Regions from separate parts of the Homo sapiens genome. Here region 2 is linked to region 1. Evidence: fine-mapped expression QTL. A gene starts in region 1. The other region holds a variant in brackets. All regions are shown on one strand. Distances are from middle to middle.

Region 1 (2,894 bases):
CAAAAAGTGGCCAGAGTGCTTCAGATCACTCAGCAAACCTTTGAGTTGCTGAAAAGTTTACTTTTGAGTTTTAAACTGTACTTTGAAAACTATATTGTGAACTGTGTTGACATGAGGAAAGGCTGGGCTCCCTGAAAACATCCAGTTCCACAGCAGGGCGGGCCCAAGCCCAGCCAATCCCCAGGCAATGCAGGGCAGGGATCCCACCTGGTGTAAGTACGGGCAGAGGGCAGAGCCAGGCTGTATCGAGGGGCGGCGCTGGGACCCTCCTCGCCCAGAGTTCCTACTCATCCCCAGCACAGAAGTGCTCTGTAGGGCCAGCTGAGGACACCCCGGTTCACTGAGGGTGGCCCACAGTAAGTCGCCGTCTGGCAGTAAGTTAGCTCTGCAGGTGTGGACCCCAAGACCACACACAGCCTTTCTCAGGTGCAGGTCCTGCCAAGCCTCACTTCGCAGTGGTGACAGGCAACCCCGTCAGGGCAGGGAGCTTCCAAAGGCCAGTCCGAGTCCATGCCAGGCGTCCACTAAATCTGCCTCTCCCTCTCCAGCGAGCAGGTGCAGCCCTCAACTCCTGCAGGCCTGGGGAGCGGAGACAGGGCCTGTAGGCTCGGACACGACCCGGTCCTGATTTTAACAGTAGACTTGAGAAGGCAGGCTCAGCAGACAGGCTGCTGGAGGATCCACCCGCTGTCTCCCGCAGCGGCCCCACTGAAGCGGCAGAAACACACAGAAGCACCAAATCTGTCACTCTCTTCCCGTAGGAAGTCCCCAGAGGTGGCCCTCCGGAGGATGGTCCTGTTGGCTGAAGATATGACCACACCTGTGCCTGCCCAGGGCCACCTTCAGCTTGGCAACAGGAACTCCGCACACTGGTACCCTGGACACACAAGGAAAAGAAAGTTCCCTCCAAGAGGGTATCTGGCCCAGCCTCAGCCCCACCAAGCGGAGGGCAGCAAAGCCCCCGAATGATTTCGCTTACCCCCACCCGCCGTCCCTGCTGGCCAGACAGGCACACCCCGTCCATAGGGCACCCCCTCCCCACGGTATCCAGCTGCCCTCGCGTCCCCGTGTGGCCGCTCGCCTGCCCGCCAGACCCGGACACGGGGCCAGGAGGGTCGCGCTGCCCAGGCACAGATCAGCCGCTGTCACACGCACAGTGGGTCTGGGGCAGCGCAGTGTGCGGTGGGCAGGGGCTGCCCTGCGCCTGGAGGCACTGCCGGGTGGGCGGGCGGAGGGATTGACCCCACCCCCGTCCCCTCCAACTTGGGCGTCCGAGCCCCGCCGCGCCTGCCCAGCCCGACCCCCCGCAGCCCCCGCGGGAGGGCGGCCTCTGAGGGGCGCCCCGCCCGCCAACCTGGGATCCCTCGCGCGTCACCTGCGACCCCGGCGCGGGGCCGTCGCCGGCTCTCGGCCCAACTTCAGCTGCGGCCGCTGGCACCCTCTCGCCCCCCGGCCCGACCCGACCGGCCCCGGGCCCCGCGGCTCCACGCCCAGCCCCGTATGCAAATGACCTGGTCCCTCAGCCAATGGCCGGCCTAGCCGGGCCCGCCCTACCGCAACGCAGCCAGTGGGCGCGAGGGGGGTTCGCGACGCCCCGCCCACCGCCGCGCGGCCCTTCGCGGGCGAGGCCGGCGCGTTCTTTTCTGCACGTCTGCCCGGGGAGGGGCGGCACCTGCCGGGCGGGGCCTGCGGGGCGCCAGCTGCGAGGGCGCGGCGGGGCCAGGGCGCGTCCCCCGGCCGGGCGGATGGTACGGCCCGAGGTGGTCCTCCTCCCGCCGCGCGGTGGTATGGCCCGGGCTCGCGGGGCTTCCGGGCTGGGCGTGGGGCGCAGCCTGGCGACGGGTCCTCCGCCCGCGGGTGTGCGTGGGGCGGCAGGGCCGGCCGGGAGCTGCCCCTCTTCCCGCGGCGCGGTGGTACGACCCGGCCGCCTCCGTGCCCCGCACCCGCGTCCCGCGGGCCCGCCCCCCCCAACCCGCTGGGCGCCCGGCGCACGTATCCCGGGCCGTGACCCGGGTGGGGCCTGCGCGGGCCCGGACACGGCGTCCTCGGGACGCACGCACCACCCCCCGGGCGGCTTGGGGTCCCCAAAGGACGCCCGGGTCCGTCCTGCTGGCGAAGAGGGGGCTCTGGCTCTGCCTGGTTTGCCTGGCGACCCCCACGGGGCGCCCTTGGGGGCTCTGGGTCCCTCCTGCGCGCTCTGTCTCCGCGGAAGCCTCTGGAGCCTGGAGGGGGTGCCTCAAGGGCTCAGGGGTCTTCGCAGCCCTGTGCCGGTCTTTGAGGGGACGAGGCGAGAGAATCCTGTCTGTGCGCTGAAAACGTGTAAAATCAAAGGAGCCTTGACGGTTTGACCTTCGTTAGGACTCGCAGGGCCAGCTTCAGACGTGGAAGTATCGGACTCCGGGGTGGGGCTCCAAAGTGGCAGCCAAAGGAGATTTGGCCGCCGGCCCCCCTTGGCACTGTCACCCTGGTCCTCGGCCCCGGGCCGTCTCCCCTCAGCTCCCTGGCCCTAAACTCACCGCCCTGCTCTTTGTCCTCCCCTGGCCCCATGACCTCCCTGCCTCGGCATCCGCGCAGGCCTGGGCCGCAGCCTGCCCCCTGCCCCAGCCCCGGCGGCAAAGTGCTGGGGCCCCAGGGAGCTTCCGAACCAGCCCATGTCCTCAGGGGCTTGAAGGCTGGGGACAAAAATTCAGATGCAGAGTCTGGGGTGACTCAGACATGATCAGCAAGACATGACCGAGGTCTTGCTGACCCCTTGACCCTTGGCCCCCGATAGAACCGAGTGGCTCCTTGCACCTGTGGCTGCCTGTGGATGGGGAAGGTGCCCAGAGGATCACGGAGCCACTCGGTTCTATTGGGGGTCAGGGGTCAGCAAGACCTCGATCCTGTGGGTCGTG
Region 2 (2,894 bases), 52 kb after region 1:
CATCGGCTGAGAGGTTCCTGCCTCTGGGGTCTGTGCTGTGCCCCCACCGGGTGTGGCTGGTTGGTGGGAGGTGCTGGTTCCCATACTGGGGGGCATCGGCTGAGAGGTTCCTGGCTCTGGGGTCTGTGCTGTGCCCCCACTGGGTGTGGCTGGTTGGTGGGAGGTGCTGGTTCCCACACCGGGGGGCATCGGCTGAGAGGTTCCTGGCTTTGGGGTCTGTGCTGTGTCCCCACCGGGAGTGGCTGGTTGGTGGGAGGTGCTGTTTTCTGCACCCGGGGGCCCCCCGGGTGTGGACGAGGTTGGTGGCCTCAGAGTTGTGCCAGAGGGTGGATGAGGGCCTGTGCCTCCCCCAGAGCTGGTCGTGGAGGGTCCCTGGGAGGGCTCAGGGGGTCTGGGGACCTCGGAAGTGGTGCTGGTCCAGGGCCCAGTTGTTCCTCCAGCCTCTGGGGATGGGGGGACATCTGGGGGCCGGGAACAGTGCTTGGGCTTGCCTCTGCCCGCCCCTTGCACACCTACCGCGGGAAAGGAGCCACCGAAGGGGCTTATTTGGAGAACCCTGGGGGCTCACCTGTGGAGGGGGGCTTACCTGTGGAGGGGGGCTCCTGTTCGGAAACTTGTATCTCAATGACTGTGGTTGCGGTGCCAGAGGTCACCGTGTTGTGGGCCTCAACCTGGGGCAGGAAGGGGCTTGTCCCTCCTAGACACATCTTTAAGCCCCACACCCTTGGAGATGCCCGCCTGCCCTGCCCCGCACCTCTGCGTAGAAGGCTCCCGCCTGTGCCAGTGTGGTGGTGGTCAGCACAACCTCTCCCTCCATCCGGAAGTGTGAGTGGTTGGTAATTCGATATGTGATGGCCGAGTTGAGGTCCTGGACAGGGTCTCATTGAGTCCCCGGCCAGGCTGCCTCCCACGTACAGCCCTGACCCACCCACAGAGGGGAGGCCTTGGATGCACTCTCTACCGAGAACTCCGGGTCCTGAGCCTGGATCCTCAGAGGCTGAGAAGGGGCAGCTGCATCCTTGACCACAACGCCCGCTCCAGCGCCACGCGCCACGGTGCCACGATACAGTCTCTGGGGGAAGCGGGGCGGGCTCCCGGCCGCAGCCACAGCCTCCACGGTGACCTGGGTCACTGAGTAGCGGGCAAGGTCGGCCTGTTGGCCCTGGAGGCGGGGGAGGCAGCAGTGACTAGTGGGGTTGAAGGTGGAGCTGGCGCTGAAGGCTGGGGCTCAGGAAAGGCAGGTGCAGACTTGGCGGGGGCCCTGCCCCGGCCCCCCAGCCCTGACCCCCCGCCCTACCTTCCACCCTTCCCCCTCTGCCCTGCCCCCCATGCAGGTGCCCACCTCACCTTCACCAGCAGAAGGAAGGTCATGGGGCTGGGGACACTCCTGGCCACGGTGAGGTTGCCCGAGTCTGGGTGGATGATGAATGTACCATTCACGTTTCCTGGGAGGATGATGGAAGTGCTCAGCCCCGGCCCCCTGAGGCCCAGGGACCCAGCCAGCTCTGCCCAAGGTGGGGATGGAGACAGGGACAGAGGGGGTACAGGGCATTGTTGAGGGCTGGGCCCCACTCACCCCTAAAGATGCTGTAGATGATGGGCTGGTTGATGCCGCGGTCTCCGTCCTCAGCGTAGATGGGTCCGGGACGCAGGACGAGGGGAGATGGCTTCAGGGATGGCGGAAGGGAGGGCACGTCGTGGGGCTGGGGTGGATGGCCCCAGCCTGGCCCCTCTGACTCCCCATCAAGGGCAGGGTTGGCTGAGGAGGGGCCCAGTCCCGCTGGTGGCCGGGCGTCCCTGCCTGCCTAGGACAGTCCCTTGTCCCAGCATCACAATCAGTAACACCCCTGTGGGTCCCTTACTAATGAATGAGTCCAGT[G/T]GCCCAAAGATACTGAGTCCCATTTGCACAAGGCTTGTCTTGACGGGTAAGCAAACATTTAGGAAGTGGGGGCTCCCGGGGTCTGCATTTCTGCCTCCCATGTACTGTTTGGTGGCCCCAGGTGCCTTGGTGCCAGGAAGGTTTGCAGACAGCCTGTGTGGGCCCAGTGGTGACTGTGAGCAGGGCAGAGATGTCAGCATCCCTTAAGAGCTCCAGGGCCCCAGCCCACCTCCCCAGGCCCCTGAGACCGCCTGGCTCTGGGGCCCACGCTCCTCCCTGTGTGTTCAGGGTTTGCTCCCTCACCGCTCAAGATGGGAAGGGTTGGTTTACAAGGAGAGTCTGCATTTGTTTCAAAATCACGACCGAAATCGGCCCCACCCCCTGACCCCGACCCCGCCCTTCCTCTCCTGATCCTGGCCGTCCCTGTGTCCAGCCTGCCTAGAAGGCCCTGCCCCGTGCACTGCCCCTCCCTCCCCATTACCAGTATGTGCCCCGTGGGGACAGCCCCGTGGTACTGAGCTTGAATGCAGACGTAGCCATCTGAGAAGGTGCAGGGCAGGAACCACGGGGGCCGCAGGTCGGCGGGCACCACGTTCAGCACTAGTGTGGCGGTGGCAGTGTGGCTGGGTTCCACATTCTCCCCCGGAGTGTCCTGCAACAGACGGCTGTGCTGGATCAGGCCTGGGAGCAGCTGGGGCCGGGGGGCCTCAAGTGTGTGGGACTCGGGGCTGGGGTGACCTGCTCACCCGCACCAGCAGCCAGAAGGTCATGTTCGGCCGCTCGTAGAAGTCCAGGGGCCGGTCCAGCCTCAGGGCGGGACGGTTTACACTCACCAGGGAGAAGTAGTCACTGGCACCCTGGGGAGGGTCAGGGAGGACAGAGCCTAAGAGCCTTGGAGGGCGAGGGCGGCTGTGGGTGTCAGAGGCGAGGGGCTCGTGCTGGGGCAGGGTGGGCGGCACTGACTGCTGTCATTTCCTGGAGGGTGTAGAACAGAATGTCGTCCTTGTCGCGGTCC

What was found. PIP is the estimated chance that this variant, and not a neighbour inherited with it, causes the effect.
Region 2: its variant is fine-mapped to the expression of MIR210HG in whole blood (TOPMed, PIP above 0.99).

What each region holds. Positions count from the first base shown.
Region 1 is chr11:566,977-569,870 of GRCh38, forward strand. MIR210HG (MIR210 host gene) reads right to left here and starts at 1,481. Exons shown (of 2, transcript NR_038262.1): 1 at 1,376-1,481; 2 at 1-877. MIR210 (microRNA 210) reads right to left here and starts at 1,222; the gene lies at 1,113-1,222. RefSeq lists an enhancer at 2,413-2,894.
Region 2 is chr11:618,720-621,613 of GRCh38, forward strand. CDHR5 (cadherin related family member 5) reads right to left here. Exons shown (of 15, transcript NM_021924.5): 5 at 2,843-2,894; 6 at 2,626-2,736; 7 at 2,361-2,531; 8 at 1,577-1,667; 9 at 1,348-1,445; 10 at 962-1,162; 11 at 755-868; 12 at 587-671; 13 at 1-461. Among named protein-coding and RNA genes, the nearest start is that of IRF7, 4.2 kb to the left of the region's middle. RefSeq lists an enhancer at 1,380-1,985. The variant G/T (reference allele first, on the strand shown) is at 1,880.